2 separate regions of the Homo sapiens genome follow, and region 2 is linked to region 1. The links come from fine-mapping of genetic effects on gene expression. A gene starts in region 1. The other region holds a variant in brackets. All regions are shown on one strand. Distances are from middle to middle.

Evidence for each region. PIP is the estimated chance that this variant, and not a neighbour inherited with it, causes the effect. A credible set is the group of variants that fine-mapping cannot tell apart.
Region 2: its variant is the best candidate, but not a certain one, in a credible set for the expression of SHE in nasal epithelium (TOPMed, PIP 0.69).

Annotation. Positions count from the first base shown.
Region 1 is chr1:154,499,908-154,505,278 of GRCh38, reverse strand. SHE (Src homology 2 domain containing E) reads left to right here and starts at 2,867. Exons shown (of 6, transcript NM_001010846.3): 1 at 2,867-3,843. The coding sequence starts at 3,253. TDRD10 (tudor domain containing 10) reads right to left here and starts at 3,060. Exons shown (of 13, transcript NM_182499.4): 1 at 2,250-3,060.
Region 2 is chr1:154,291,270-154,296,640 of GRCh38, reverse strand. It overlaps the pseudogene RNU6-239P. Among named protein-coding and RNA genes, the nearest start is that of HAX1, 21 kb to the right of the region's middle. The variant G/A (reference allele first, on the strand shown) is at 3,156.

The DNA.
Region 1 (5,371 bases):
CTATGCTAAGCAGCTAACACACATTCTCATTTAATCCTCACTCAAACTCTAAGAGGGAGACATTGTTAACCCGTTTTACAGATGAAGTCCCGGAGATGCAGAGATGATAATCTAGTATTTGGCCAAGATCACTTAGCATCCATGCTCACAAATGGGAGAAGCCTGTTTTCGTTGTGAATCCAAACCATATGACCACATGATTCCAAAGTCCTGAGTTTCCTTCCAATCTATTGTTTGGTCTGGAGAAGTAACCTATTTGTGTAGTTTTTTGTTGTTGTTGTTTTTTGTTTTTGAGACAGGGTCTCACTCTGTCGCCCAGGCTGGAGTGCAATGGTACGATCTCGGCTCACTGCAACCTCTGCCTCCCACATTCAAGCGATTCTCCCACCTCAGCCTCCCAGATAGCTGGGACTACAGGCACACACTACCACGATGGCTAATTTTTGTGTTTTTAGTAGAGATGAGGTTTCACCATGTTGGCCAGGCTTTATCTGTGTTTTTAAAAAGACCTAAAGAATACATAAGGAGCTCTTACAACTCACCAACAAAGACAACAAATAAACCAATTAAAAAGTGAGCAAAGGATCTGCTAGACATTTCTCTGGAGATATACAAATGGCCAATAAGCACATGAAAAGATGCTCTGCAACTTTGGCCACTAGGAAAATGCAAATCAAAACCACAAAGATAACACTTCATATCAATCAGGGTGGCTAAAAGCAAGAGATACAGACAACATCCTCTATCTCTAACAAGTATTGAGGACATGAAGAAACAGGGGCCCTCATATTGCTGGTAGGAATGTAAAATGGTGCAGCCACTTTGGAAAAGTTTGGCAGGCTCTCAAAAAGTTAGACAGGGAATTACGATATGACCCAGCAAGTCCACTCCTGGGTAACTATTCAAGAGAAATTCAAATATGTGTCCACACAAAGACTTTTCCACAAATATTCATAGCAGTGTTGCTTATAATAGCCAAAAAGTGAAAACAATCCAAATATCCATCAACTGATGAATGAATAAAGTGCTGTATAGCAATACAATAGAATATTATTTGGCAATATAAAACGAATGTAGTAGTAATACATGCTATACGACCTGGATGAATCTGAAAAATGATGCTAAGGGAAAGAAGGCCACATATTGCATGATTCCACTTCTCTGAAAAGTCCTGACTAGACAAATCTATATAGACAGAAAGTAGATTAGTGGCTGTCTAGGACTGGGAAGGCGGAGAGGGAAATGAGGAGTGACTGCTAATTGACGGGAGATTTCTTTTGGGGGTGATGGAGATGTTCTAAAATTAGATTGTTGCGATGGTTGTACTGTAAACACACCAAATATACTGAAAACACTTGAGGTGCACACTTAAAACAGGTGAATTTTATGGTATGTGAATTATATCTCAATAAAGCTTTAAAAAAATGTCACTACGCATTTTCAAGAACGTCAGTATGAGCACGCATTTCTTCATTTTAGCTTTCCCACCTCACAAACCACCACCCACACAAATGAGGCCGTCCACAGTCGCCATCATTCTGTTTCCATTGTATATGAGGACTCAGTGTTGGTCAGCCCCTTCAGCACATTTAGTTTGCTAAACCAAAAGATTTCCGTTCAGTAAACTAAGTTTAAATTTCTTTTTTTAAACCAGAAAGGTGTTTTTTTGTTTGTTTGTTTTTTGTCTTTTTGAGACGGAGTCTCGCTCTGTCGCCCAGGCTGGAGTGCAGTGACTTGATCTCAGCTCACTGCAACCTGCGCCTCCCGGGTTCAAGCGATTCTCCTGCCTCAGCCTCCTGAGTAGCTGCAACCATAGGCGCGCACCACCACGCCCGGCTAATTTTTGTATTTTTAGTAGAGACCAGGTTTCACCATGTTGGCCAGGCTGGTCTCGAACTCTTGATCTCAGGTGATCTGCCCGCCTCGGCCTCCCAAAGTGCTGGGATTACAGTCGTGAGCCACCGCGCCCGGCCTCAGAAAGCTTTTAAAGGGCTTCGAAGGGAGGGAGGAATGGCAGAGGCGTCTTTTCCCTTAAAGTGGCCACAGTTCTGCACACGGCACTCCCCGCCCGCACAAATCCAGACTAGGAGGGCCGCTCCCAACCGGCGCGAGCGAGCGACGGCCCCGCGGGAACAGCGACCCCTTTCCCCCATCAGTCGGGACGAGGGCGTTTCCCATGGCTGCCTGCCGACGCCCCTCCCTCCCAACCCTCGCCTGGCATCCCGGGACCTGGGGCCGACAAGCCATACCTCGTCTCGCGGGCCACGCGCGTGCACCTGCGATCGCGACGCCCAGCCTTCGCGCCTTCTCCCTCCGCGCTCCGCCCCCTCTGAGCCCGGGGGCACGGGGCGGGGCTTGCCGGCAGCCAATCCCCGGCGGCCACGGCGGGAAGAGCCTCGCGCTGCCCAGGACCGTGTGCCACCGAAGAGTAACGGAACTAGCGCAGGAGCTGGCGACCGTTGTCCCTGCGCCCGGACCTCGGGCCGCAACCTCTGCCCTACCGCCAAAAATAACGTCTGCAGAAAGAGTGGAGTAGAGCGGAGTGGGTGGGCGAGGGGCTTCCTTCCCGGGGGTGAGCGGCGCACGTGACACTCCTGGGCGCGTGTGAAGGCAGCGCCCGGCCGAGACCGGCTCGGTGCAGACGCGGGCTGTCGGCGGCAGAAGGGGGCTCTCTGCTCAGTGGGGCGCGGCCGATCCGCACGTGCGGCCGCCGCCCCTTTCTCCAGAGCTCGCAGCCCGACCCGCCTCTGCCATGGCGCTCACCCCGCCGCCCCCAGCTCTGGGCAGGAGGTGGCGGGGCTGGGAGGCGCCAGCCGCGGAGGGGAGGGGCGCGCGGAGTTGATGGGCCGCTCGCCGTCCGTCCACCGTCTGTCGCTGCGCCGGGGATACTCCCGCCGCCTCCGCTCGGTCCTCTCTGGTCCCTGGGAGCGTGGGCTGGGCCGCAGGGGGCTTCCGTGGGCCTGGCCTCTCCCACCGCAGGAGGAAAGAGCAGGGGGAAGCCCCCGGCGCCCGCCGCCTCCGAGAGCCACGGTGTCCTCGGGCCGGGCAGGCGTTGAAGACGAGCCCGGGCGGGGCCCCCCGCGCGTCGTGCCTGTCGCCTGCCGTGTCCGGAGCAGAGGCTAGCGCCCGCCCGCTCGGCGCCCCGAGCCGTGAGAACCCCACCCTGCCGGGCGTGGGCGACGGCCGGCCGGGGGCGCACGGAGCAGCCGTCGCGGGGCCTCGCCGCGGCCTCCAGCGCCCCAGTCACGGGGAATGCAGTGGTCCCCGACCCCTGGCGCCTCTGCGTGTCTGGGCTGGGCTTCCTCGCTCGCCTGCTCCACGGCCCCGACGCTCCTGGGCCGAGCCGGCCGGGGCCCCCTCATGGCGGCCAAGTGGTTCAAGGAGTTCCCCCTGAACCTGAAGACCGTGTCGGAGCGGGCCAAGCCCGGGGGCGGCGGCGGCAAATTGCGCAAGAACTCGGAGGCGGGCGGCGCTGGGCCGGGTCCTGGCAAGGGCCGCAAGAACTCGGCGGCCGAGCTGGGGAGCGGCAGGGCCGGCGTCGGCCCCAAGGACAGCCGGCTGTCCCGCGACAGCCTGCAGGGTCTGATTCAGGCCGCCGCGGGCAAGGGCCGCAAAAACTCCCGGGCCACGGAGGAGGAGCCCCACCGGGGTGCAACCAAGAGCTCGGGCTGCAGCACCTACATCAACAGGCTCATCAAGGTGGACACTCAGGAGAAGAACGGGAAGAGCAACTACCCCAGCAGCAGTAGCTCCAGCTCCAGCTCCTCTTCCTCCGCGTCCTCTTCCCCTTCCTCCCTGGGGCCCGAGCTGGACAAGGGCAAGATTATTAAGCAGCAAGAGACGGTAAGAATACAGCCTCCCTTGGACCACCTCTCAGTCGAAGGGGAGCCCTGGGCGCCTGCTAAGCCCTAGGCTTCTTTAGACCTAAGAGGCAGTGAGGATAGGTTTCCTAAGGTCCTTTCTCCCTCCACCATTTGGGAATTCCTGACCATTTAAAATTCTTAGACTGTTTTTTAATTCTTGAAAAACTCTTATTTTAGAGGTGGGGAGTTTTGCAGAAATGTACTAGCCATTGAATTTTGTTAGCAGTTTAGAAGAGTCGTTGAATGAGATATTCCTGTTTGGTTACATTTGACCCCTTTATAGATGTGGTTCATTTTAATTTTGATATTCAGGGGAATTGCAAAGCTAGGCTTGTGTATGACTTTTATGCTTCTTGAGCATAAGGAATGGTAACCTCTCAAGTGTGTAGATATGCATTTCAAAGCTTCAGGAAATGGTTTAACCAACAGTCTTCTCCACTGATTTGGAAGTTCCATCATTTTCTGCGGTTCCACCGAGTAAAGGGCTCCTCGGAGGTTCAGCAAATCTCCAAGACTGCTGCCCTTTCATTCATTCCATGGGCATTTGTTGCGCAGCAGCCATATGAGGAAAGGAGCACAGGGCATTAAGGGCTGTGGAGGATACAGAATATGACAAGGAAATGCTCTCAAGGAAATTACAGATGAGAAGAGAGGGTGTTTCCTGCGACGGACACACTGGAGGTTTTCTGGGTGCTGTCCAATGTGGAAAAGTTAAGAAAAGGAGTGTGAACATAGGAAGGGACTCCCTCCATTCTTGCTGAGATGAGTTGGTCCGATCTGGTTGTTTTTATCTTCTCTCCGATGTGAAAGGGGGAGAGAGAAGAGCTCAAATCGAGATTTCAGACTCCGGTCCAGGCAATCACTTCCTAACATGCATGGGAGCTTTAATTTTCTCTTGCCCAGGCTTCAAACATGCTACCTCCCTGGTTGAAGTCAAGAGCCCATAACACATGCTGTGTATGTCTGCATTGGGCACTTCTGTTCATTCTTCCATTCATTTTTTCATGCTGTAAATACAGCATGCCCACCCTGAGCCAGGCACTGAGTGGAGAGCTGTGTAAAGATGGACGGGGACCCAGCTCATATGTTATTCAGTGGTCCACCTGACTGTGTGACTAGATCACAAGCACCTTGAAGCCAAGGGCTCACTGTATCTTGCAAATGCGGTACACATGGTGGGTAGTCAAGAAAAATGGATTAAGTGAATGGCAGTCGCAGTCACAGTCCCTTGCAGTGGTTGTCTGGTTATTTTTATGGTTGTCACTTCTGGGTGTCTGAGGTTTCTGAGGCTATTTCCAGGCTGTTTCCTCCTCTTCGCTTCTCCTCATGTATCTGAATTCTCACCAACTCCAGTGTTACTTCTAAACTCTTTGGAGAATGTAACAGAGGTTGTGGAGCAAGGCCTGGAGCTTCCTTCCTGAGAAGGGTCCCCTACCCTCTGGTGTTGTCACCCATGTTGTCACACACCACCTCCTCAGGTGCCTTCTATTTTTGGAAAGATGGATGCT
Region 2 (5,371 bases), 210 kb after region 1:
CCAGGCTGGAGTGCAGTGGCAAGATCTCAGCTCACTGCAAGCTCTGCCTCCCAGGTTCATGCCATTCTCCTGCCTCAGCCTCCTAAGTAGCTGGGACTACAGGTGCCTGCCACCACACCTGGCTAATTTTTTGTATTTTTAGTAGAGACAGGTTTTCACCATGTTAGCCAGGATGGTCTCGATCTCCTGACCTCATGATCTGCCTGCCTCTGCCTCCCAAAGTGCTGGGATTACAGGCGTGAGCCACCGTGCCCAGCCTTGTTATTTATTTTGACATGGAGTCTTGCTCTGTTGCCCAGGCTGGAGTGCAGTGGTGTGATCTTGGCTCACTGCAACCTCCGCCTCCCAGCTTCAAGTGATTCTCCTGCCTCAGCCTCCCGAGTAGCTGGCATTACAGGTGCCCGCCACCACACCCAGCTAATTTTTTTGTAGTTTTAGTAGAGACGGGGTTTTGCCATGTTGGCCAGGCTGGTCTCAAACTCCTGACTTCAAGTGATCCACTTGCCTCGGCCTCCCAAAGTGCTGGGATTACTGGTGTTAGCCACCACGCCCAGCTAATTTTTTTTTGTATTTTTATTACAGTCAGGGTTTTGCCATGTTGGCCAGGCTGGAACTAGTTAATTTTTAAAAATTTTTATGTAGTGATGGTGCCTTGCCATGTTGTTCAGGCTAGTCTCAAACTCCTGAGCTCAAGTAGTCCACCTGCCTTGGCTTCCCAAAGTGCCGAGATTACAGGCATGAGCCACCACACATGGCCGTAATTTTCTTTCAGCTCTTAAAATATCTCATTCCATTGCCTCCTGGTCTCCATTGTTTCTGAAGAGAAGTCTGCCGTTAATTGTGTACTTCTTCCCCCATATTTGATGAGTCTTTTTTTCTTGCTGTCTGAAAGATCTTTTTTGTCTTTTTATTGTAATCACTTATTTTTAAATTCATTCTTCCATGCTCAGATTTTTTGTATTCATCTGTGTATTTAACACAGTAGTATTACTCTCTATATATAGTACATTTGCTTTTATTTTTTCTTTTATTTACATGTAAAAATATGGAATGCTTCACAAATTTGCATGCCATTCTTGTACAGGAGACTGGCTAATCTTCTCTGAATTGTTCGAATTTTTGTACATGTGGTAGCCAATTGTCTTTAAACAAGTTGACCGTGATGTGTCTATGTATTTGAGGTTTATTGAGATTCTCAGATGTGTAATGTTTTTCATCAAATTTGAAAAGTTTTTGGCTATTATTATTATTTGTTGTTTTTTGAGATGGAGTCTCACTCTGTCGCTAGGCTGGAGTTCAGTGGCAAGATCTCGGTTCACTGCAATCTCTGCCTCCCAGGTTCAAGTGATTCTCCTGCCTCAGCCTCCTGAGTAGCTGGGACTACAGGCACACACCCCTACACCTGGCTAATTTTTGCATTTTTAGTAGAGATGGGGTTTCACCATGTTGGCCAGGATGGTCTCAATCTCTTGACCTTGTGATCTGCCCGCCTCGGCCTCCCAAAGTACTGGGATTACAGGTGTGAGCTACACACCTGGCCTTTGTATTATTTTTTCAACTACTTTTTTCTGACCCTTTGTCTCCTCTCCTTTGGACATGTATTACATGTATATCGGCATGCTTGATGTACCACTGGCCTCTGAGTCTTTTTGTTTTCGGTGTTTTTTTGTTTTTGTTTTTTGGTTTTTTTGTTTCTTTTTTTGAGACAGTCTTGCTTTGTCACCCAGGCTGGAGTGCAGTGACATGAACATGGTCACTGCAGCCTTGACCACCCAGGCTCAAGCGATTCTTCTGCCTCAGCCTCCCAAGTAGTTGGGACTATAGGGGCACACCACCATATCCAGCTTACTTTTGTATGTTTTGTTGAGATAGGGTTTCATCATGTTGCCCAGGCTGGTCTTAAACTCCTGGGCTCAAGCAATCCATCTGCCTCAGCCTCTCAAAGTGCTGGGATTACAGGTGTGAGCCACTGTACCCAGCTGTTCACTTTCCTGCAATCATTTTTGTCTCTGTCATTCAGACTAGATTATTATTATTGATCTATCTTCAAGTTTATTAAATTTTTCCTCTGCTATCTTAAATCTGCTATTGGGTTCATTTAGTAAAATTTTCATTTCAGTTATTTTACTTTATAATTCTAGAATTTCTGTTTGATTCTTTTTTTATAGCTTCTATTTCTCTGTTGAGATTCCATATTTATTGAGTCATTGTTAAACATTTTTATTTAATTCCTTGAACATATTTATAATATGTGCTTTAAAGTCTTTGTCTGCCAAATTCAACTTCTGGGCCTACTCAGAGTCAGTTTTTATTTTTATTTATTTTTTTTTTTTTTGAGACAGAGTCTCACTCTATCACCCAGGCTGGAGTGCAGTGGTGCCATCTCGGCTCACTGCAAGCCCCGCTTCCCAGGTTCACACCATTCTCCTGCCTCAGCCTCCCAAGTAGCTGGGACTACAGGCGCCCGCCACAATGCCCGGCTAATTTTTTTGTTAGCCAGGATGGTCTTGATCTCCTGAGCTCGTGATCTGCCAGCCTCGGCCTCCCAAAGTGCTGGGATTACAGGTGTGAGCTACTGTGCCTGGACTCAGTTTTTATTTTGTTTTTTATTGTTTTTTTTTTTGGAGACAGAGTGTTGCTCTGTCACCCAGGCTGGAGTGCAGTGGAATGATCTCAGCTCACTGCAACCTCCGCCTCCCAGGTTCAAGCAATTCTCCTGCCTCAGCCTCCCCAGTAGCTAGGATTATAGGCGCCCACCACCATGCCTGACTAATTTTTGTATTTTTAGTAGTGACAGGGTTTCATCATGTTGGCCAGGCTGGTCTCAAACACCTGACCTCAGGTGATCCACCCGCCTCGGCCTCTCAAAGTGCTGGGATTACAGGCGTGAGCCACTGCACCCGGCTAGTTTTCATTGACTTTTAAAATCAGGATATGAGTTACTGTTTTTTAGGTTTCTTCGCATGTGTCATAATTTTTTTCTTGAAAACTGATCATTTTATCCTCTTCCTCCTCTAAAAAACTGGTCATTTTAGATAATAGACTGTAATAACTCTGGATTCTGTTGTATTTTTCCGAAAGGTGGTGATGCTGGTGATGCTGATGGGGTGTGTGTGTGTGTGTGTGTGTGTGTGTGTGTAATTTGGAGTTAAACC[G/A]TAGAGTCTGGATTCTATTGTATTTTTCTGAATGGTGGTGATGCTGGTGATGCTGATGTGTGTGTGTGTGTCATTTGTCTGGAGTTAAACTGTAGAGTCTATCATTCCACAGTGTGCAGCTGCTAATGTGTCTGCTCAGTTTTTATTCTCGTTTTTTTTGTTTGTTTGTTTGTTTTGTTTTGTTTTGTTTTGTTTTGTTTTGTTTTGTTTGAGATGGAGTTTTGCTTTTGTTGTCCAGGCTGGAGTGCAATGGCATGATCTTGGCTCACTGCAACCTCTGCCTCCAGGGGTCAAGTGATTCTCCTGCCTCAGCCTCCTGAGTAGTGAGTAGCTGGGATTACAGGCATGCACTACTATGCCTGGCTAATTCTGTATTTTTAGTAGAGACAGGGTTTCTCCATGTTGGTCAGGCTGGTCTTCAACTCCTGACCTCAGGTGATCTTCCCACCTCGGCCTCCGAAAGTGCTGGGATTACAGGCATGAGCCACCATGCCCGGCCATTTATTCTTGTTTTTAAAATTTTCCCACAGGGGTCAGGCATGGTGGCTCACCTTTAATCCCAGCACTTTTGGGAGGCCAAAGCGGCTTGAGCTCAGGAGTTTGAGACCAGCCTGGGCAACATACCAAGACCCCATCTCTACTAAAAATACAAAAACTTAGCAGGTAGTGGTGGCATGTACCTGTGGTCCCAGCTACTCATGAGCTGAAGTAGGAAGATTGCTTGCGACTGGGAGGCAGAGGTTGCAGTGAACCGAGATCATGCCACTATACTTCAGCCAGGGTGACAGAGTGAGACCCCTATCTCAAATAATAATAATAATAAATTTTTCCAGCCAGGTGCAGTGGCTCATGTCTGTAATCCCAGCACTTTGGGAGGCTAAGGTGGATGGATCACCTGAGGTCAGGAGTTTGAGGCCATCCTGGCAAACATGGCGATACCCCATCTCTACTAAAAATACAAAATTTAGCCGGGCATGGTGGCACCCAGCTATACTCTCAGCTACTCGGGAAGCTGAGGTAGGAGAATTGCTTGATCCTGGGAAGTGGAGGTTTCAGTGAGCCAAGATCGAGCCATTGCACTCCAGCCTGGGCGACAGAGTTAGACTCCGTCTCAAAAAAAAAAAAATGTTCCCTCAAGGATTAGAACAGGAATTAAAAGAAATTAAAGACTGTAGGCCGGTCGCAGTGGCTCATGCCTGTAATCTCAGCACTTTGGGAGGCTGAGGTGGGTGGATCACAAGGTCAGGAGTTTGAGACCAGCCTGGCTAACACGGTGAAACTCCATCTCTACTAAAAATACAAAAAAATTAGCCAGGCATGGTGGCGGGCACCTGTAGTCCCAGCTACTCGGGAGGCTGAGGCAGGAGAATGGCGTGAACCTGGGAAGCGGGGCTTGCAGTGAGCCAAGATGGCGCCACTGCCCTCCAGCTTGGGCAACAGAGTGAGACTCTGTCTCAAAAAAAAAAAAAAAATTAAAGACTGTGTAAGCAAAAACTCAGTTGTATGTAAGAAAACCCAATTCCCCCTTGAGGAACAGAAAGGGCTGGAGTCCTTTAAAATTAACTGCCTGTTTTTCTCTCTGTGGCTAGTGAGCCTTATCTCTCCATTTACCAGGCATTGTGAAGACTCTGTTTCTCTAGCTGTGCAGCTGCAAGGTCACTAGACAGATAATCTCAAGTCGTAAAACATGTTGTTCCTTGAACAGTAAGAAATAATGTAATGCATGCCTTAACTGAATAACTGTCTTTGTCTCTCGCTTCTATAATACGCTTCCCCCCGCACAGATCTCCCCCCACCCCACGAAATGCTTAAAAGGTAGCTTGACTCTTTGTTCCAGGCTCAGTCCTTTGGATGTTAATCCAACTGGGTCAGTGAACCTAAATAATTAAATAACTCCTCCTCAATCCCTCGGTCTCTCTGATTCCTTAATTATCCCGCAGCAGTATCACCCCTATGCTTACATAGCACAGTGTTCAGCCAATGATTAGAATAAGCATTGTGTTCCAACACCTCAAGCCCATATAGCATCCACTTCTGCCAATATATCTGTTTGAAGGATGAGAAGTGTATTAAAATGTGCAGCAGTGTTCAAGTCTTCCTTGTCTTTTATTTTTCAGGGAGCTCTCTGAGCTATCCTCCATGCATATGATAGTTTCCCAGTGAGCCAGGGATGTGGGAGAGCTTATCTCAGCCCTTTTGTAGTTTCCTATTTTCCA